2 separate regions of the Homo sapiens genome follow, and region 1 is linked to region 2. The links come from fine-mapping of genetic effects on gene expression. A gene starts in region 2. The other region holds a variant in brackets. All regions are shown on one strand. Distances are from middle to middle. Region 1 overlaps SUFU (SUFU negative regulator of hedgehog signaling). Region 2 holds the start of POLL (DNA polymerase lambda).

What was found.
Region 1: its variant is fine-mapped to the expression of POLL in tibial artery (GTEx, PIP above 0.99).

The regions. Positions count from the first base shown.
Region 1 is chr10:102,519,757-102,530,722 of GRCh38, forward strand. All of the region lies in intron 2 of SUFU (SUFU negative regulator of hedgehog signaling), which reads left to right. Among named protein-coding and RNA genes, the nearest start is that of SUFU, 21 kb to the left of the region's middle. The variant G/A (reference allele first, on the strand shown) is at 6,311.
Region 2 is chr10:101,582,299-101,593,264 of GRCh38, forward strand. It overlaps POLL (DNA polymerase lambda), which reads right to left and starts at 5,959. Exons shown (of 9, transcript NM_001174084.2): 1 at 5,524-5,959; 2 at 4,948-5,108; 3 at 3,564-3,858; 4 at 3,018-3,180; 5 at 2,304-2,621; 6 at 1,210-1,383; 7 at 465-593. The coding sequence starts at 5,062. It overlaps DPCD (deleted in primary ciliary dyskinesia homolog (mouse)), which reads left to right and starts at 6,023. Exons shown (of 6, transcript NM_015448.3): 1 at 6,023-6,102. The coding sequence starts at 6,039. RefSeq lists enhancers at 5,599-5,878, 5,979-6,308.

The DNA.
Region 1 (10,966 bases), 940 kb after region 2:
TCAATAGACTTTATATTTTTGTGGGGTTTTTTTGAGATGGAGTCTCGCTCTGTCGCTCAGGCTGGAATGCGGTGGCATGATCTCAGCTCACTGCAACCTCCGTTTCCTGGGTTCAAGCAATTCTCCTGCCTCAGCCTCCCGAGTAGCTGGGATTACAGATGCCCACCACCACGCCCAGCTAATTTTTGTATTTTTAGTAGAGAGGGGGTTTCGCCATGTTGGCCAGGCTGGTCTTGAACTCCTGACCTCAGGTGATCTGCCCACCTCGGCCTCCCAAAGTGCTGGGATTACAGGTGTGAGCCACCGCGCCTGGCCAGTTTCCCCTATTATTAACACCTTGCATTATTGTGGTTTATTTGTTATCATTGGGGAACCAATATTGATACTTATTACTACCTTAAGTCCATAGTTTACCTTAGGCTTCACTCTTTGTGTTGTACAGTTCTTTTTTCTTTCTTTTTTTTTTTTTTTTTTTTTTGAGGCAGAGTTTCACTCTTGTTGCCCAGGCTGGAGCACAATGGTGCGATCTCAGCTCACTGCAGCCTCCGCCTCCTGGGTTCAAGTGATTCTCCTGCCTCAGCCTCCTGAGTAGCTGGGACTACAGGCACCCGCCACCACGCCCGGCTAATTTTTTTGTATGTTTAGTAGAGATGGGGTTCTACCATGTTGGCCAGGCTGGTCTCGAACTCCTGACCTCAGGTGATCCAACCACCTCGGCCTCCCAAAGTGCTGGGATTACAGGCGTGAGCCACCGTGCCTGGCCAGTTCTTGGGTTTTGACAAATGCATGTCATGTATATACCATCACAGCACCATACAAACTAGTTTCACTGCTCTAAAAATTCCTTGTGCTCCACCTGTTCATTCCTCCCTCCCCCGAAACCCCTGGCAACAACTGTTTGGTTTTTTTTACTATCTCTGTAGTTTTTGCCTTTTCCAAAAGGTCATAGAGTTGGAATCAAATAGTATGTAACTTTTGCAGACTAGCTTCTTTCACTGAGTAATATACAGTTAAGATTCCGCCGTGCCTTTTGGTGACTTGATAGCTCCTTTCTTTTTATCACTTGATACTATTCCATTGTTTGTTATGTACCACAGTTTATTCTTTCACCTTTTGAAAAATATCTTGATTGCTTCCAGTATTTTTTGGCGATTTTTAATTAAGCTTCTATAAACATTTGTATACAGGTTTTTGTGTGGACATACGTTTTCAACTCATCTGGGTAAATCCCTAGGAATGTAATGCTAGATCGTATGTTAAGACTATGTTTAGCTTTATGAGAAGCTGCCAAACCATTTTCCATAGTGGCTATACCATTTTTCATTCCCACTAGCAATGAATGAGAGTTCCTATTGTTTCATGTCCTCACCAGCATTTGGTATTGTCTGTTTTTTGGATTTTAGCCATTCCAATAGGTGTGGAGTGGTATCTAATTGTTTTAATTTGCAGTTCTCTCATGACATATGCTGTTGAGCGTCTTTTCATATGCTTGTCTGTCATCTGTATATCTTCTTTGGTGACATATCTTTGTTTTTCTTCCTAACCTCCAGCCACTCCCCATTCTACCTCTGCCCATACATACCTTTTTCTCACATCATGGGTTCAGACCATGGGGCTAATTATGCTTTCTGGCATATTTTTCTTTTGGTCACTTCTCAAGCCGTTAAATGAGTTAGATCCGCTGAGTAGGTGCTGGGCCTACCTCTGAATTCCTAAGTTGCTGTTGGTTTTAACTGGGGCTGGCTCATGAGTTCTCCACCTTATATTCTCCAATGATGGTGTCTTCCATAAAGTGTAGCTGCTACTGAGATTTGCAACCTCAATCCTAAGGTTTGAGATTGATTCTGCCCTCCAGTACAGACTGTAGAGAGACTGGTATGCAGATTTGTCCATTCCATACCCTATTGGGCTTAACCTTGCCTTTGATGAGAAATGCATATACCATGCTCCTTTGAAGCCCCAACCAGATCTCAAACTCTCATAGTTGAACCAGCATCAAGAAGACAAAGTCTAAAACTTTCCTGGCCTGGCCTTTTGCTGTTAAATTCGTTATTGTTATCCAATGTCTTAGTTGTAATTTTGCTTTTTTTCACTTATAAAAACAGTTGAACCATTTTACTAAAAATGTTGGGAATTAGAAATGGGAGAAAACAATTACTGATAATCCTATCACCTTTTGTTTACAATTCTATGTCTGTTCTTATGATGATTTCTGTAAATGATTCTATAAATAACTGGGAGTGACGCTGTCCCAGTTGTGCACAGGGCTTTTGCTTTGCGTGCATCTCATCTTCTTAGTGAGGACTTAACATCTTCTGAGGCTTCCCTGCTACCTGCTTAACGCTGTTGTCTGAATTCAGCTTGCCCACTGTTGCTAGGGTTTCTAGATTCTGAAAACAGCACATTTGCTTGGGAAGATAGCTCTTACCCACTGCCATGTTACATTAACGATATTCCCATTTTTCCTCCTTGACGTCTCACAGCAGTGAAGAGTGGTTTAGGTAGTATATGTATGAACTGTGCTGTTTGCCTACTTCTCAGATCACAGCTTTACTATCACAAATGGTGGTAGCTGTCCTGAGGGGTTGTGTTCTTCCAGTTGTTGCTTTTATTGTTATTTTCCCCTTAGAACAGTCAAGATTTGGTGATCAGTGTCACCTGGAATAAATACCACACGCCTCCTCCTTTCTCTCTTTCTTGGGTGCGTGGTACAGAAGACTGAGATTGGCTTACAGAGTGCCCCAGGGTCCTTGTACTCGAGGGACACAGAAGGTTCACAGGCATAAGCACAAATGCCTAGAGCTCCTTTTCAGGTAATTGCCTGAAACAAATGGGCTACCATTTAGGGCTTCTGTCACACAGGAAGTCAGATAACTTAATACTACTGTATGTTTGCAGCAGGACTAGATCTAGAGATCTAGAGAAGGAGTGGCCCACTGTCCTTTCCTAGCACTGGGTTGTGGGTAAGCAGACACACTTAGTTCCCATCCAGCGTTGATCGCTGTCCTCTCTTCTTTGGAAGGCCAGACGTTAATCTGCTCCGTAGATTGTCATCGTTGGGACACAGTTCTGGGCATGAGGCTTGTAGTAACAAGCAACATAAACCTGGTCCTGGTCCTCATTGGGCTGAAGGGTCCTTGAGCTAGAAGACATTGTGGGGAGGTGGGCCTGATACAGTTTCACAGCCTTAGGTTATCACCTGGTGCCTCTTTGTCTCCTCTTCAGCAGTCCATGGCTTGAGGCCTAGTGGAGGGCTCTTGGCAAGCAGGAGTCCTGAGGCTCAGAAATGATGTGACCAGGCCTGAGTTTGAGGCTGAGACAGTTGTCCATTTGTCAGCGAGATCATAGCTTCACAGCAGCTTCTCAGAGAGGTATGGTTCACTGGACTCCAGGCCCCTAGCATGTTAGTAAAAGATAGTGGCCCTCACAGATCCCTTTCCTTCCTACTCCTATGTTACTCAGTCTCTTGGAGTCCCTGGTCATAGAATCAGCTTAGCCACAGGAAGGCCAATCAAAGAGATGTCTTGTTTTTCTAGTACTAACCCTCATGTGATACCTGGGGCCTCTTGGAGCCCTGCCTCCGACCACCAGTTTCTCTTACTCTGACCTCAGGCCTTTCAACATGATGTCAGGCTGCCCACGGCCATGGCTGTAGGGAAGAGTAACTGCTAGAGAATGGGACTTGGCCCAGGCTACCAGTCCCAGGGGGGTCGAGCTGGCTGGCTGTGCTTTTGGCCTGTGATGGATTTGACTCTTCAAGGCTTCTGACAAAGCTTGGTTGGTTAGAGGAAAAATGTAGTGAAAACCTACAGGCAACACCATGGCTTGCCCTAACCCTCTCGTCTTCCTGTTCTAGCTTTTCCCATATATCAGGTTGCAGACATGCTGAATTCCCACCCTCCTGGAGCCAAGCTGCCAATTTCTCATTCCTGTAACCAGTGGTTTTGTGTAGATAAAAGGCCCAGAAGGAAGATGGTCGCTGAGCAGGGAGCCTTCGGAGTTAGACCTTCTTTAGCCAGGGCCAGTGGACACTCATCTCATGAATCATGCTCAGAACCATCCAGTGGCTTCATGTCTCACTTGAGTAAAGGCCAAAGGCCATCACCTTTAAGGTCCTTTGTACTCTACTTCAATCGGCCTTCTCTCTGACTGCTCTGCTCTTCCTATTCTGCCCCCCTTGCTTTTCCTCTGAAGTGCCAGGCATTCTTCTACCTCAGGGCCTTTGCACTTACTCTCCCTATGCCTGCAAAGTTCTGCCTGCAGATAGCTTCATACCTTACCTCACTTCCTTAGACCCTTTCGCAAATAACTTCTCTCAGTTAGGCCTTCCCTGACCTCCTTATTTAAAAAGGAAATCCTGCACCCTCCTCCCACAAAGCAGTATCCCCCTTTCCTGCCTAATTCTTCTTTTTAAAAAGTTATATATATTTGTATAGTCAGGGTCTCACTATGTTACCCAGGCTGGTCTCGGACTCCTGGACTCAAGCGATCCTTCTGTCTTGCCTCCTAAAGTGCTGAGATTACAGACATGAGCCACCGCACCCAGCCTAATTTTTCTTTTTCTTTTCTTTTCTTTTTTTTTTTTTTGAGATGAAGTCTAGCTCTGTTGCCCAGGCTGGAGTGCAGTGGTGCAATCTCGGCTCACTGTAACCTCCGCCTCCTGGGATCAAGCGATTCTCCTGCCTCACCCTCCCAAGTAGCTGGGACTACAGGCACGTGCCACCACACCTGGCTAATTTTTATATTTTTTGTAGAGACGGGGTTTCACCATGTTGGCCAGGCTGGTCTCAAACTCCTCAAGTGATCTGCCTGCCTCAGCCTCCCAAAGTTCTGGGATTACAGGCGTGAGCCACCGTGCCCAGCCTATTTCTTCTTTAAAACACTTATCACTTCTGCGATGTCTATTATGCTTTAAGAAATTTTTTTTTAAATTACCATCTAGCTTATTTTACTTACTTACTTATTTGTCTTGTTTATTGTCTGTCCCCCCTCCTTCCCACTAGAACATAAGCTCCCTGAAGATAAGGATGGAAATGTGCTTTATCCATTAATGTTTCTCCAGTACATCAGTAAATATTTGTTGAACAAATGAATAAAATGGAGGAAGCTCTTGCTTTGGGGTTTTTCCGACTGTTGGAAAAATATTCTCACCACTGGAGACGGAGAATTCTCCTGGCCCAGCACCAAGCCCGAGCTTTTAGCTCATTCAAGAGCACTTCTTCAGTTTGGACCCTTATTCCCATAGGAGAGGAGACATTCCAAGGGCATTTTCATAGGAGTCAGAACCCTTCTGTGGGAGGAGGTATGTGATTTTGGAAAAATTGTCTGAACCTTGCTTTATTTTATTTTATTTTATTTTATTTTTTATTTTTGAGACGGAGTCTCTCTCTGTCGCCCAGGCTGGAGTGCGGTAGTGTAATCTCGGCTCACTGCAACCTCCACCTCCTGGGTTCAAGTGATCCTCCTGCCTCAGCCTCCCAAGTAGCTGGGATTACAGGGCACGCTACCACGCCTGGCTAATTTTTGTATTTTTAGTAGAGATGGGGTTTTGCCATGTTGGCCAGGCTGGCCTCAAACTCCCGGCCTTAAGTGATCTGCCCACATCAGCCTCCCAAAGTGCTGAGATTATAAGCATGAGCCACCGTATCTGGCCTGAACCTTGCTTTATGAGGTGAGGGAGTACCTCCATCCCAGCAACTGGCACAGTGCTTAGTATGTGTCAAGCACTTAATTTATTTTCTTTTTTTGTTTGGTTTGAGATGGACCCTTGCTCTGTCGCCCAGGCTGGAGTGTAGTGGTGCGATCTTGCGATCTCAGTTCACTGCAACCTCTGCCTCCTAGGTTCCAGCGATTCTCCTGCCTCAGTCTCCTGAGTAGCTGGGATTACAGGCACGCAGTACCATGCCCAACTAGTTTCTTGTATTTTTAGTAAAGATGGGGTTTTGCCATGTTGGCCAGGCTGGTCTTGAACTCCTGACCTCAGGTGATCCACCTGCCTCGGTGTCCCAAAGTGCTAGGATTACATGCATGAGCCACTGCACCTGGCCTATTTTCATAAATTTTTAGAGCACATTACCTAAATATCCAGTGCTTTCTTAGTGCTGAGGATACCATGGAAAGCAAAGCAGGCAAGGTTTCTGCTCTCATGAATCTTATATTCTTATTGGAGAAACATGAAAAATTTTATATAGTTTTAGATAGTACAAGTGCTGTGTTGAAAATAAAGCAGGGCCCCAGCTACTCAGGAGGCTGAGGTGGGAGGATCACTTGAGCTCAGGAGTTCTGGGCTATTATGCACTATGCCAGTCAG[G/A]TGTCCACACTAAGTTCAGCATCAATATGGTGACCTCCCAGGAGCATGGGACCACCAGGTTGCCTAAGGAGGGGTGACCTGGCCCAGTAGGTCAAAACTCCTGTGCTGATCAGTAGTGGGATTGTGCCTGTGAATAGCCACTGCACGCCAGCCTGGGCAACATGGGGAGACCCTGTCTCTTAAAAAAATGAAAGTAAAGCAGGGCGCCAAGTGTGGTGACTCATGCCTCTAATCCCAGCACTTTGGGAGGCCACGGGGGGGTGGATCACTTGAGCCAGGAGTTCGAGAGCAGCCTGGGCAATGTGGTGAAACCCCATCTCTACAAAAAATACAAAAATTAGTCAGGCATGGTGGTGCGTGCCTGTAGTCCCAGCTACTTGGGAGGCTGAGGTGGGAGGATCGCTTGAGCCCAGGAGGCAGAGGCTGCAGTGAGCCAAGATCGTGCCACTGCACTCCAGCCTAGGTGACAGAGTGAGACCCTGTCTTAAAAAAATAAATAAAATTAAAAAAGCAGGGATGGTACTCTGGAGCTTACATGGGTAGAAGTAGTGGTTGAGGTGGGTGGGGAGGATGCTGTTAGCAGTAATCAGTGATGGCTTCCTTGAAGATTTGAACTGAGACCTCAAAGACCGGTGGCAGCCAGGGCTGTCACATTGTACAACTCTAGGGCCACCGTTCACATTATTCTGTGCAATTGCTGCCCCCTGGAGTTGTACAATGCTGGGAGTCCTGATGAAGGTCCTAGGCAGTGAAACAGCTAGTATAAAGGCCCTGAGGGCAGCACGGACCTCGAAGTGTTTAAGGAAAAGAAAGAAGGCCAGTGCATCTGAGGCTTGGTAAGAGAGAACAGTGGAACAAGATGAGGTTGCAGAGTTTGAAGACAATGTAAAGAATGTGACATTCAATAAATTATAATTATTATTATTGTTTTTTTTTTTTTTTTTTTTTGAGATGGAGTCTCGCTCTGTCGCCCAGGCTGGAGTGCAGTGGCAGTGGTGCGATCTCAGCTCACTGCAAGCTCCGCCTTCTGGTGTCATGCCATTCTCCTGCCTCAGCCTCCCAAGTAGCTGGGACCACAGGCACCCACCACCACGCCTGGCTAACTTTTTGTATTTTTAGTAGAGACAGGGTTTCACCGTGTTAGCCAGGATGGTCTCGATCTCCTGACCTTGTGATCCGCCCACCTTGGCCTCCCAGAGTGCTGGGATTACAGGCGTGAGCCACCGCGCCCGGCCGACATTCAATAAATTATTTGTTGACTGATGAGGAAAGAAAAAGGATGATATGATGGAGGCTGGAGTGGGGTTTTAGGAAGCATTCCAGTGTGGGACCTCAGCTTTAGTATGAAGACAGGAGAACTGAGTTGAGTGACGGTTTTATTTCCCCAAAAAGGAAATAGTAGCAAAAGTGGCTCAAAGGAAATACCATTAAGATATATATATATATATGTATATTTATAGTACATCATGACATTCAAAGCCATGAAGATATTTGAATCTACTTTGATAGTGACTAAGAGGGAGGCACATTGCTTTTTAATACCATCTTATCTTGTTGAATGTCTCGGCTTGATTATCTCTTTGGGTGGCAGTGGGAATATTATTACCATTTAGCATTGCTCAGCCATGACATGATGTATTCATGTACAGAACACACAAAAAGTACAGTCCTTGCCCTTGGGGAACTGAAATGCCAAAAAGATTTGTTTCTTCCCATTGCCCTGTTTAGGTTTCTTGATCTTCTGGGATGGCTGGCTTCCCAGAGTTCTGGAGGAGAGTGGGTGGACAAAAGGCCCTTGGGTAGATGCCTTGCCTCTTGGGTCAGTAAGAAGTCCCCAAGCTGCATACTTAGGCACAGAGGGCACCTCGCTTCCCAAATCAGACTGTGATCTTGTCGCCATTGGCCTAGCCTGTCTTTTTTTATTTTTAAGAAGACCTTTGTAAAGGTGTTGCTTTAAGCCAAAGCCAAGAGTGGGAGCTACCATATTGATGCCAAGAAACCCAAGCACTGGGCTTCTTCCTTGGCCCAGAATTCCTGTAGCGCTCCAGGCTGGCTTAGGAGTCCCCTGGGGGCTGGCTGACCTTTGAGTTTGGGGGTGGTTGGGAGTAGATGGAAGAAGGTGCAACAGATGTCCAGCAGGGGATGGTTGAATGTGAGCTTTTACCACCCTGCAAGAAAGGGTCTGGTGCCCTTGGCTTAGAATTTCTAAAATTCAGTATCTTGGCTGGTACAATGGCTCACACCTGTAATCCTAACACTTTGGGAGGCCGAGGTAGGAGAACTGCTTGAGCCCAGGAGTTCAAGACCAGCCTGGGCAACATAGTGAGGCCTCATTTCTACAAATAATAAAAAAAATTAGCCAGGCATGGTGGCATGTGTCTGTAGTCTCAGCTACTCAGTGGCTGAGGTGGGAGGATTACTTGAGCCCAGGAGATCAAGGCTGTAGTGAGCTGTGATCACGGCACTACACTCTAGCTTGGGCAACAGAGTGAGACCCTGTCTCAAAAAATAAATAAAAATAAAATTCAGTGTCTTATTCCAGGAAACCCTTTGCTCACTGAAAGCCCAGGACAGAGTTAAGCTGCCTGAAGTGTTGGGAGCCGGAAGAGTTTATTTGACTGGATTCTCAGCCGAATCAGTGCTGGGAGCCACTGTTTTTGAACTTGAGGAATGCTGTGGGAACATGGTCTTTGGCTCCCAGCAAAATGTCTCAGGAACCATCTACTTGAGTGGGGCAAATGCATTCCATGAATCTGGTTGGTTGGGGTATAGCGCAAAGAAAGCTTCTATAACCCAGAGTTGCAACTCAAAGGTGGCTGCTGCACTGTAGCCTTATTGGACTCCCAGGTCAGAGTATGAGAGTGCAGTCTTCGCTGATGTGGCTTTTTTCCTTTCTTTTTTTTTTTTTTTTTAAGATTATATAAAATTGATTAAATATAACGAGATTTATGGGTTTTTTTTCTATTATTTTGTTTTTATAACTGGAGGCTTAAAAGCTTAGCTATATCAGAATATTATCATATAAACATATTTCAAAAGTTATTTTTACAAAGTTTTGCTACATACAGTAGTATTTGTGTTGTCACCCAACACCATTTTCAAATGTCTAATAAAGTATCAGTAATTTTGAATTATAAATAAAAAATAATCTCTGCAGTTGTTTATTTAGTAGTTGTTGACTGAATTCTGTTGTAATGGCTGTGACTCAAAGCATCTCACAAAGGAAATCTCAGGTCTGGTTAGAAGGTTCTGGGAGGGACCCAAGGTCAGGAAATTGGGTGAAGCTGAAAGCAGCTTTTGAAGGACTGGGCTGATTAAGATCCAGAGCCCAGAAGTTAGGGAAGCTGGAGGCATCTGCTGATATTTTAAAGGATAAATGATGAGCAGAGTTTGCTTTGAGTGAGTACTAAGAAAAGGAAAGTTGCAGCCAGGCTCAGTGGCTCACGCCTGTAATCGCAGCACTTTGGGAGGCCTAGGCGGGTGGATCACGAGGTCAGGAGTTCGAGACCAGCCTGGCCAATATGGAAGGCTGAGGCAGCAGTGAGCCATGATCATGCCACTGCACTCCAGCCTGGGCAACAGAGTGAGACTTTATCTCTACTAAAACCCCATCTCTACTAAAAATACAAATATTAGCCGGGAGGCCAAGGCGGGCAGATCACAAGATCAAGAGATCAAGACCATCCTGGCCAACATGGTGAAACCCCATCTCTACTAAAAATACAAAAATTAGCTGGGCATGGTGGCATGCACCTATAGTCCCAGCTACTCGGGAGGCTGAGGCAGGAGAATCGCTTGAACCCGGGAGGCAGAGGTTGCAGTGAGCCGAGATCGCGCCACTGCACTCCAGCCTAGCGACAGAGTGAGACTCCGTCTCAAAAAAAAAAAAAGAAAAGAAAAAGGAAAGTTGCACACTAACTGCCGTGGAAGGGCACTTGCTAGGTGCCAGACACTGTGCTGTCACACTAAAACCTCCCACCCTATGAGATGAGTGTTCTTCTCCCAGTTTTACAGATGAGGAGCCTTGCACACATGGAAGTTAACTTGCCCACCAGTCAGCTAGAGAAAGGTGGAGCTGGGGTTTGATGGGCTCAGTTGCTTCCACAGCGTGTATTCTCGTCCACTTTGCTGGGCTCCTCTCTGGCATCTTATTGGGATGCTGGAGTAATATGTTAATAATTTCATGCAGTTTCCACCTAAGTCCACCCAGAGACCTCCAAAGGGTCCAAAGATCGTGAGACTAAGAATGTCTGACACCTGCCTTCCTCACTTCCCAACTTCCCTGTCTCTAAGCCAGGCTCAACACTCTGCCTAAGTCCTTCAGCCCATAACCTTGGGCTGGCATTTAGTTTCTCTTTACCTTTGTCCACTATTTTAAATCTTTTTTTTTTTTTTTTTTTTTAATGGAGACAGGGACTCACTCTGTTGCCCAGCCTGAGTGCAGTGGCACAGTCATAGCTCACTACAGCCTCAAACTCCTGGGCTCAAGTGGTCCTCATGCCTCAGCCTCTTGAGTAGATAGGACTTCAAGTTTGTGCCACCATGCTTGGTTAATTTTTAAATTTTTTATAGAGATGGGGTCTCACTATGTTGCCCAGACTGGTCTTGAACTCCTGGGCTAAAGCAATCCTACTGCCTCGGCCTCCCAAAGTACTG
Region 2 (10,966 bases):
AACCTTTGCACATTTGTGCATTTTGGGGAGAAAACAGTCCACAGTTTTCATCAGGTTCTCAAAGAAGTTGGTGAAATAAAAAAAAAAGATAAAATAAAATATTAAAACCCTCTGCCCTGACCCACCCTAACCTCAGTACAGATATAATTCACCTGTAATCTAACCCTAACATTAACCCAATCCTAACACCAATCAGTCTAGAATTGAATCCAATCCTAATAGGCCTGACTACTGAGAACCAGAATCTAGAGGGCTGGTGTTACAGCTCTTTCCTCCCAAAGCTCCCCACCCCCACCTCTGGGCCTGGAGCTTCAGTCTTAACTTGCTCTGTGCTCAACCTCTGGTGATCCACAGTTTCCTCTGCCTGCTGTCCTCCCCAGCTGAGGAGTTGGGGGTTCTTGGCTTTGACCCAAGACCTTACAGCAGGACCTGGCTGTCCTCACTGCTCTGGGACACCTGCTTACTGTCTGCTCAATCTCTGTAGCCTCCTCCCTGGGCATACGTTCCAGGAAGTCACTGTAATGCTTCAGGCCGATGGCCTGCTGGGTTGTCAGGGAGGCCTGGCTGCGGATGTCTTCCAGACTTCGGAAGCCCTGGAAAAAAGCAGCCAGATGGGAAGCTGTAAGGATCCAGGACCAATGAAGAGGCATGAGTGAGCACACACACAAGGCTTCCATCGCCCCAGACTCTAGGGAAGGCTAGAGGCAGGACCAACCTAGGGGCAGTTGGGTCTGTACTCAGCAGGACTTGGGAAAGGCAGGGAGCATGGGAAACATGCCATCATCCAGCCCTGCCACTATCCTAAGATGCTCGTTCATGATTCCATCAGTCTGAGGATGGACCTTGTCATCTTCATCCTTACCAAGCTGCCCTGGTGATTGTGGGCAGAGCCAGGATTGGGAACCACTGCTCTAGACACGCAGTGTCAAGGCCTGGCCTCCTCAGGAAGGCCCTTGCTGGTCTGGGGAGACTGAGAAACATACTTCTTGTCCCTGTCTACTCCTTCTTAAGGATACCAAGCAACAAGGCTGTTCTGGGAGCTGAGGGGTCTATATGAGTCCTGGTCCGCTTGAAAAATGGTCTCCCTATACTGTGGGTGCATTCCCATCAGAGCACAGCATAGGGATCTGGGGCAGAGCACAGCACACATCTGGGGCAGGAACTCTGAGACACAGCAAAACTGAAGTAGGGGCTGAGCCAGGGTGTGACCTGTTGGTACCACATCTGGGCAGTCTTGGTCCCAGCTCCCCAGATGTTGGAGAAGAGCTCCAAGACAGGCACGCTCTCACTGATATGGTCCAGCTTCCGCAAATGCCCGCTCTCCAGGATCTCTATGATTTTCTCAGCCATCCGCTTCCCAATCCCAGGGATACTGCAGGCCTCCTAGAGGAGGAGGAGGCAGAGGCAAGAAAGAAGAGTGAGGAGATGGAAGAGGTAGAGCCAGTGGAAAGGAAGCTGACTCCTCTAGCAGATGCTGACATAAAAGCCAGCCTGGCTGCTTGGCAACTGTGTGGCTGTGTAAAGCTTGGGTGTAGTTGAAGATGAGAATTTTGGATAGAATGAGGGCTGGGTAATTTGTCTTTTGGTTCCCAGAAGGATGGAGACCAGCAGTAAGAAGTAGAAAATAATGATGATATTAGTCACCACCACCACCACCACCATCATCATCATTCCAACAGCAAGAGCTAACATTTACTGAGGGCTTACTCTATGTCAGGTCCTGTGCTACAGGGACCATTTCATTTAATAGTAGCCCCTTTTTACTAATGAGAAAACTGATGCTTTGAGAGTTTAAGTAACTTGTCTGGAGTCACACAGTTAGTGAATGACAGGAACCAGAGTTCAAACCCTGGTCTGTTAGGCTTCAGAGTCCAAACTTCTTTTAAACAACTTTTTAGGCGGGACACAAGGGCTCATGGCTGTAATCCCAGCACTTTGCAGGGCTGAGCCGAGGGTAGATTGCTTGAGCCCAGGAGTTCAAGACCAGCCTGGGTAACACGGCAAAACACCATCTCTGCTAAATAAATGAATAAATAAATAAATAAACAAAATTAAAAATAAAAAACTTTTAATTATGTTAAAAAATTCAAAAGTAGAGAGATCCATATAACCCCCAAGTATCGTACATCTCCCAGCTTCAACAACTATCAAGATTTTGCCAATCTGCTTTCATCAATTTTCCTTTTTTTTCTTTTGTGCAAGTCCTAGACCCCATAAAATCTTCACCACTGTACCTGAACCCCACTGGGGTTACTAACCACTGGCCAGTAAAGACCCCTCCTCCCACTCTAGCCCCTGGGTACCTGGTACGAGGTGACAGGCTTATGGAAGCTCTTGAGGGCATTGATGGCCTTGGCATAGCCCAGGGCCCTCCACTTGTCTCCCTGAACACTGTAGGCTTTGGCCAGAACTTCCAGCTTCTCTGTGATATGGAGGTTGTGATTGGTCGCCTTCTGGCTTGAGGGCTGTGCACAGACCCACTTATCCAGGACAGCAGGGGCTGGGCTAGGCTCACAATCTCCCTCAAGGGAGGTGGGGTAGTGGCCACTGATGAGGGCTTCCAGATCAGCTGCACTAACCTGGGTTTCTTCCCCATCACTGGCTTCATCATCAGAGATGGGCTTGGGATAGAGAAGAAAAGAAAACAATAAATTCTTGTTCTCCAAGAGAAGGGATCCTTAAAGGTGGGGGTCATCTTCTTTGTGCGGGGGGAGGGTCTTCTAGTCAGACCTAAGAATGAGGCGGGGCCTTCTGCATCAGACTTGGATCTCCTTGGGTGTGAGGCCACGTTCCCTTTGGCTCCACGCAGTGCCTAGCCCTAGGATCCCCAGTGGTATGTGTTAGATATGGCCTAGATAAATGCAGCAGTGATGAGTGTTGGGAAGAGCTAAATGGCTTCACAATAGAGCCCTCCTCTCTCAGGGGCCTGGGACTTTCTGAACAGCCACCAGGCCCACCCCATTTCTGTGATCTGCTTCCTAGGGGAAGGGAGTTCTGAGGGATGGGAGGCTCCTGACCTGGGCTTGGGTGTTTGGTGCCTCTTTTGCCTTTTGGGGAGGAGACACAGGCCTGGTGGGAGGAGGAGGAGGAGAAAGGGCTGTCTGAAGCAGGGCCTCATGGGTGCCAGGAGGAATAGAAGCATCCTGCTCTGCCTTGCTGGGCTGTGGATGGTCCAAGTACCTGTGGGGATGGTGATGGGAGGTTAAGACACCAAAGGTCTCACCCTGTATCTGTCCCCAGTCCTTCTGTACTCTGAAATACTTGGTTTCCCAGTGTGTCCAATTAAGAAAACGAGTTTTTTGAGGTTTTTGGAGTTTCTCTTGAGACAGGGTCTTGCTCTGTCACCCAGGCTGGAGTACAGTGGTACGATCAAGGCTCACTGCAGCCTTAACCTCCCTGGCTCAATCAATCCTCCCACCTAAACCTCTTATAGCTGGGACTACAGGCACACCCCACCATGCCTGGCTAATTTTTTAATTAATGATAGTTATTTTTAATAATTCAAGAAAAGAGCTCAAGATGCTACTAGAAAACATTTGAAAAAAAGACTGGGATCAGCCCACCTACTGGGGATGAAGATGCTGAATCCAGCTACATCCACCAGCCTCCTCTCCTGAAGGCACAAGCTCAGCCAGGCTGACTTCACCAGCTGAGCACCCGGGGGCAGCTGGGGTAGTCTGAGAAGGCGGAGGGCTCGCTCATAGTCCATGCCTTCATCCACCACAATGTGAGTGACACCTGGGCCCTGGGCAGGGCATAGCTGGCCGCCATGCTGAACAATCTGCTTCTCAAAGAGTTCTGCCCGGGCTCGTCCAATGCCAGTGCGCACAACATGGGCCCGAAGGGAGCTCAGCCACTCTGTGGAAGGAACATCCAGATGACTACTGTTGTAACTTTTTAATTTTTATCTGCCACCCCCTGGCCACGACATAACTTCTAACATGATCTGAATGACGTGTTCACAGTCCCCTACCCTGAAAATAAGCATTTCCCTTCCATCCAGACAGCTTTCCTTCTACATATAGCAAATTTTCTCACAGGCCAGCACTTGAATGTAAGGGACAAGGATTTTCATACGTCCTGTTCCTTGGTGCAATCTAGAAGTGTCTGGCACATTGTAAGTAACCTGTAAATATTTGTTTAATGAATGCCTCCTCCCTTCTTACTTTGTTTTTTGTTTGTTTGTTTTGTTTTCTTTTGTTTTGTTTTTGTTTGGAGACAGTCTCACTCTGTCGCCCAGGCTGGAGTACAGTGGCATCGTCTTGGCTCACTGCAACCTCCATCTCCCGAGTTCAAGCGATTCTCATGCCTCAGCCTCCCGAGTAGCTGGGATTACCGGCGTGTGCCACCATGCCTGGCTAATTTTTTGTATTTTTAGTAGAGACAGGGTTTCGCCATGTTGCCCAAGCTGGTCTCGAACTCCTGAGCACAGGTGATCTGCCTGCCTCGGCCTCCCAAAGTGCTGAGATTACAGGCAAGAGCCACCGCGCCCAGCCTCTCTCCATACTTTGAATCCTTTATCATTTATTCTTTCAACAAAGCGCGTTTCTTGCCCTTACAGTCTGACAGACCCGACAACCCTGCCTCCAAAGCCTCTGCCATTTATTTGCCAATTTGGCTGCAAAACAACTAACAACAAGCCTGGGTAATGGAGGGGGGTTTCTGTCCCAGTCCTCAGGGCAAAAATTATACTGGTCATTCCCTGAGGGCCCAGGGAGTCTTTTCTGATGGATAGAGGTCTTCGGGTAGAAAAGAAGGTAACACAGCAAATAGCCTGTCCAAGACCCAGGACCAAGCTTAGCACAAGGTAGATACAAACAGACCTGCAGGCCCTGGACAGGCAGAGTCAGCTCCAATATCTGATTCTGGACATAAACAACGTAGGGCTGAAGCACATGAAGGCTGTGGGTTCAAGCACACGAGGGTTCTGAGACTGGGTCAGCTCACCTTCTGCTTCTTCTCCCTCTTCCCTCCTAGGAATCTTTGCAAGTACTTTTGATGATGCATCAGCATGAATTTTCTGCCGCTTGGGAAATGCCTTCAAGATACCCCTGGGATCCATTGAAGTATGGCTGGATCCCGGCCTATTGGAGCGTTGGTCAGGGCTGCTGCACGTGGAAATCCAGAATTGAGGCCCTCCAACCCCTTTGCCTATGGAGGTAGGGTCTTTCCTGACCAGGCTTTGGGGGTAGCAGCCCAGTTTGGGGAAGCGGGTCGGGGGAGGGGGTCTCTTCAAACCCGGTTAAACTTCAGTGGTTTAGCCTAGCTTCACACTCCCCAGCCTTTCGAAGTTGGAGTATTACGGGAAATGAGGGGAAGGCTGGTGCCATCGGGGGTACTTTTGAGGAGTAGGAAACGACACCATTCCTCAGAGGGGTTGCGCTAAAGATTCAGCACAGCCCTGCTGCGGCCCACTTCGAAGGGCTTTACCAAATGGGATGCTGGGCTAGGAAATGGAGCTTTAGGGGATGGAGCGGAGCCTGGGGAGGACCTGCACATAAACCCCACATACTATTTCTCTACCTCCAACACAGACTCGCAGAGGAAGGAGGAGGACTTTCGGGGGTGAGTGGGAACGCCCTGCACCTGTCCTGGTCTCAGCCTCTCGACATGGGGGTGCTCAGCGCCGCAGCTGCGGGGAGATGGGGCACGGCCGCAGCAGGTGTGGGGAGCCCTCCGGGAATGGAGGAGTCTCGCAGCTGCGGGTGAAGTCCCGGGCAGGTGCGGTGTACTCGCCGTGTACGCAGCTGGCGCAGGCCAGGGAATCCCAGCTCGGGGCTAGAAGAAAGCTGGAGTGCCCGACCCCGGCCCCAAGAGTCTCTCCAACCCCCAGAGTCGGTCCCCGGGTGGGGTCGACTACTGGCCAAGCTAGTCACCCGGGGGTGGGCAGGAATAGACCACTTACCAGCAGAGCCAATGAGAGCGGACGAAGGGGGGAAGGAGGGCAAATGGCCAGAATAGCTTCCGAGTCAGCCGGAAGTGACCCTCTGGAACGGTTGCCATGGCAGCGGCTGGGCGTGCTGCTTAGCAGGGGAAAGATGGCGGTGACGGGCTGGTTGGAGAGTCTGCGGACAGCCCAGAAGACTGCGCTGCTGCAGGACGGTAACTCGAGGGTCCCCACGGGCTCCTTCGTTTTTTTCCCTCAGGGTCCGGCCCTCCGGGAAGGGCCTCAGGGCCTGGGTCGGCAGAGCTGGAAGGGTCTCGGCGGTCAGCCGGGCCAGGTCCTGCATTTGCAGATGAGGAGACTGAGGTTCACAGAGATGACATGACTGGAACACATGTCTCCGGACACCCCTTAGATTCCTCTACACCATCTCGCTCCGCTCTGATTTCTGTTGCTAATATAGTAATTTCTTTTACATTCATTATCTCATTTGCTCCTCACCACTGTCCTGAGAGGCTAATTTTCACCCCGTTTTACAGAAGAGGAAACTGAAATCCAAGAATGTTTTAGACTTTAGAGAGGAGAGAGGCCTGGGCTCTAGTTCCGACTGTGCCATTAATTCACCACGGGCGCTTCAGTCGGCTCCTTTACTTGTTTGGGCCTCACTTTCCTCATCTATAAAATGAAGTGGATGGACTACCATTGTTATCTCTGAGGTCCTTTCCAGCTGTAATATTTTTGTTAAGTGAACTTCTAAATATTTTCTGTGTCTTTAGGGGAGCTAGAGCAAGAACCAAGGGCTGTGCCTGGAAGAAGTGGGCACAGGGGCATGGATACCTAACTTTTCCCCACCCTAGGATTGGCCGATGCCGGCCCCTTTGTGCACTTGGGTCCTTTCTGGACCCACTGGGTAGCCAGGATGAATTGCGTCTGAAGTTCCTGAGGCTTTCAAGATAACAACTGGTGACTCATGTTCACAGGCAGGGGCCAATCAGGGAAGCCTGGAGTTTGTGGAAATTAAAATCATTTACTCGTTCGTGCAACATTTAGGAAGACTTTTACTATGTGCCAAGCTCTAAACTAGAACAGAAAGAAAAAGATATGTTGTCCCAGGACTCAGAGTGGTTGGGAAAAACATGTACTTAAATAATAAGAAGCGTTAAATAGAGGTTGTAGTCTTGTATAAAATGGTAGGAAAGAGTGAAGGTGTAAGTGACATCTCTTTGGAGGAAGACCCAACAGAAGTGATGATGTTTCTGGGTCCTAAAGAATTAATAAGGTCAGGCACAGTGGCTCACGCCCGTAATTCCAGCACTCTGGGAGGCCAAAGTGGGCGGATCATTTGAGCTCAGGAGTTCGAGACCAGCTTGGGCAACATGGCCAAACCTCATCTCTACAAAAAATACGGAAATTATGGCCGGATGTGGTGGTTCACGCCTGTAATCCCAGCATGTTGGGAGGCCGAGTGGGCGGATCCCTTGAGGCCAGGAGTTCGAGACCAGCCTAGCCAACATGATGAAACCACCCCATCGCTACTAAAAATACAAAAAAATTAGCCAGGTGTGGTGGTGCGCACCCGTAATTCCAGCTACTCTGGAGGCTGAGGCAGGAGAATCGCTTGAACCCGGGAGATGGAGGTTGCAGTGAACTGAGATCACACCACTGCATTCCAGCCTGGGTGACAGAGTGAGTGAGACTGTGTCTCAGACAAAAAAATAAATAAGCCGTGCATCATGGCACATGCCTGTAGTCCCAGCTACTTGTGGTGGCTGAGGCCAGAGGATCGCTTGAGCCAGCGAGGTAGACGCAGCAGTGAGCCGAGATCATGCCAGTGCACTCCAGCTTGGGCGACAGAGCGAGACCCTGTCTCAAAAAAACTGGAAAAAAAAAAAAAAAAAAGAATTAATAGGCGTTTGCTGAGTGAAGAAGAGGGGATAGCTATTCAAAGAACAACTCACATATAAGGACCCTATGTGAAGGTGTGAAGGTACGTGCCTGATTACTAGAGGAATAACAAAATGTTTAGTAATGTTAAAGCAGTCACTCAGTCAGAACAAACCACCTATAACTATGTCAGGTACTATTCTAGGTGCCAGGATGGAAGCGAGAATAAAAAGGTCCCTTTTCTCAAGGAGCAATGAGGGGAAGTTGTGGAAAATGAAGAGAGATGACAGATAAGTTGGGACATATTGTGATAGATCTCTTATGCCTTGCTAAAGATTTAGGACATTTTCTCATAGGACAGTGGTTTTTGTTTTTATTGTGGTAATAAATACATAACAGAATTTAGCATTTTAATCATTTTTAAGTGTACAGTTCTGTGGCATTAAGTACATTCACATTGTTGTGCAACTATCACCACCATCTTCAGAACTTTTTAATCTTTCTCAACGGAAATTCTTTTTTTTTTTTTTTTTTTAGAGACAGGGTCTTGCTCTGTCACCCAGGCTGTGGGGTACGATCATAGCTCACTGCAGCCTTGAACTCCTAGGCTCATGTAGTCCTCCCACCTCAGCCTCTTGAATAGCTGGGACTACAGGCATGTGCCACTACACTCAGCTCAAGTGAAATTCTGTACCCACCAAATGCCAACTCCTCATTCCCTCCTCCTCCCATCCCCTGGCAACCACCATTCTACTTTCTGTCTATGAATTTGACTGCTCTAGGAACCTCGTCTAAGTGGAATCATACAATATTTGTCTTTCTGTAACTGGTGTATTTCACTTAGTGTAACGCTTCAAGGTTCATCCATGTTGCCACAGTTGGATACTTCCAGCTGTGCCATTAATTCACCACAGGATCTCTAGTTGGCCCCTTTACTTGTTTGGATCCTTTCCAGCTGTAATATCGTTCATAAAGTAAACCTCTAAATGTTCCCTGTGTTTTTAGGGGAGATAGAGCAAGGACCAAGGGCTGTGCCTGGAAGAGGTGGGCACAGAGGTATGGATATTGTAGCATGTGTCAAAATTTTGCTCCTTTTTAAGGCTGAGTGATATCCATTGTATGTCTACACTGCATTCTGTTTATTTATTCATCTGTTGATGGACACCTGGGTTGCTTCCACCTTTTGGGTATTGTGGATAATGCTGCTCTGAACATGAGTATACAAATATCCACTTGAGTCCCTGCTTTCACTGTTTTTGGTCACAGAAGTTTTTAAACAAATATTTTATCAGCCAGGATTTTGTTAAGTTCTTTTGTTAGTAGCATCACAAAATGATATTGTTAAGATTCCACCCTATCCCCAGACTGAAAAACAACTCAGTATTGCATATGTGGTTAAGCCTTGTCAAACCTGCAGATTTACCCCTGGGTGTGTAGGAGGGGTGTGGGGAGTAGGGGGGAGGTTACTCCCTTCCACCAAGAATCATGGCTATTGATATCTTGGGCTGGATAATGAGACTCCATTTTACTTTTGTTTTTTTAAGAAATAATTACATTCATTGTGGAAATATGAAAAATAAAGAAGTCAAATATAATATTACCACCCAGATAATCATAATTTACTTTTTTTTTTGAGACAAGTTTCACTCTTGTTGCCCAAACTGGAGTGCAATGGCGCAATCTCGGCGCACTGCAACCTTTGCCTGCTGGGTTCAAGCGATTCTCCTATCTCAGTCTCCTGAGTAGCTGGGATTATAGGCGCCCGCCACCAAGCCCGGCTAATTTTTTTTTTAATTTTTAGTAGAGACAGGGTTTCACCATGTTAACCAGGCTGGTCTCAAACTCCAGACCTTAGGTGATCCGCCTGCATCGGCTTCCCAAAGGGCTGAGATTACAGGCGTGAGCCGCCTCGCCCAGCCCATAATTTATATTTTTATACATAAACTTCTATATTATTTCATGCATACACTCACAGTTATTTTTCTTTTACAAAAATATACTAATATACTTAATAATTTATATATACATTTATTTCTAGAATAAATATACTATTAAAACAAAGTATAGATAAGTATCGAATAATCATTGGGTAAGGGAAGATGCTCTGAGTGCAACTTCTAAGGCAGTAACCACAAAGAAAGAAAATATATAGTTGGCTTTATAAAAACTAAACACCTGTGTTGGGTACCTGTAATCCCAGCTACTGGGGAAACTGAGGCAGGAAGCTCACTTGAGGCCAGAAGTTTGAGGCTGTAGTGTGCTATAATCATGCCTGTGAATAGCCACTGCACTCCAGCCTAGGGAACATAGCCAGACACTCTTAAAAAACAAAAACACTTGTTTGGGAAAACCCACTTTAAACAAAGTTAAGGGCCAGGCGTGGTGGCTCACACCTGTATTCTCAACACTTTGAGAGGCCAAGGCAGGAGGATCACTTGAGCTCAGGAGTTTGAGATCAGTCTGGGTAACATAGTAAGACCCCATCTCTACAAAGAAATTTAAAAATTAGCTGGGCATGGTGGTGTGCAACCATGGTCCCAGCTACTCGGGAGTCTGAGGTGGAGGATCACTTGAGCCCAGGAGGCAGAGGTTGCAGTGAGCCGAGATCACACCACTGCACTCCAGCCTTGGCAACAGAGCAAGACACTCTAAAAAAAAGCCTCAGTTGGCCGGGCGTGGTGGCTCATGCCTGTAATCCCAGCCCTTTGGGAGGCTGAGATGGGCAGATCACGAGCTCAGGAGATTGAAACCATCCTAGCCAAAATGGTGAAGCCCTGTGTCTACTAAAAATACAAAAATTAGCTGGGTGTGGTAGCATTCACCTGTAGTCCCAGCTACTCAGGAGGCTGAGGCAGGAGAATTGCTTAAACCCGGGAGGCAGAGGTTGCAGTGAGCCGAGATCACACCACTGCACTCCAGCCTGGCGACAGAGCGAGACTCTGTCAAAAAAAAAAACCCTCACTTTTCCTCATCTATGAAATACAGGTAATGAAAACACATAGGATTATTGTGAGAATTAAATTTGATAAGACATGTGAAATGCCTGGATTTAGTAAGCGCTGCATCCTGCCTGGACTCAAGGCTGGATGCCAAGGGGAGAAGATGGTCAGGCAAGACCCCCTCAGCTCCTCCCAGGCAGTACCTTGGATCCCGCTCCTGACAGGAGAGCCCTTTCTAATGCCTGTGAGCCATCCAAAT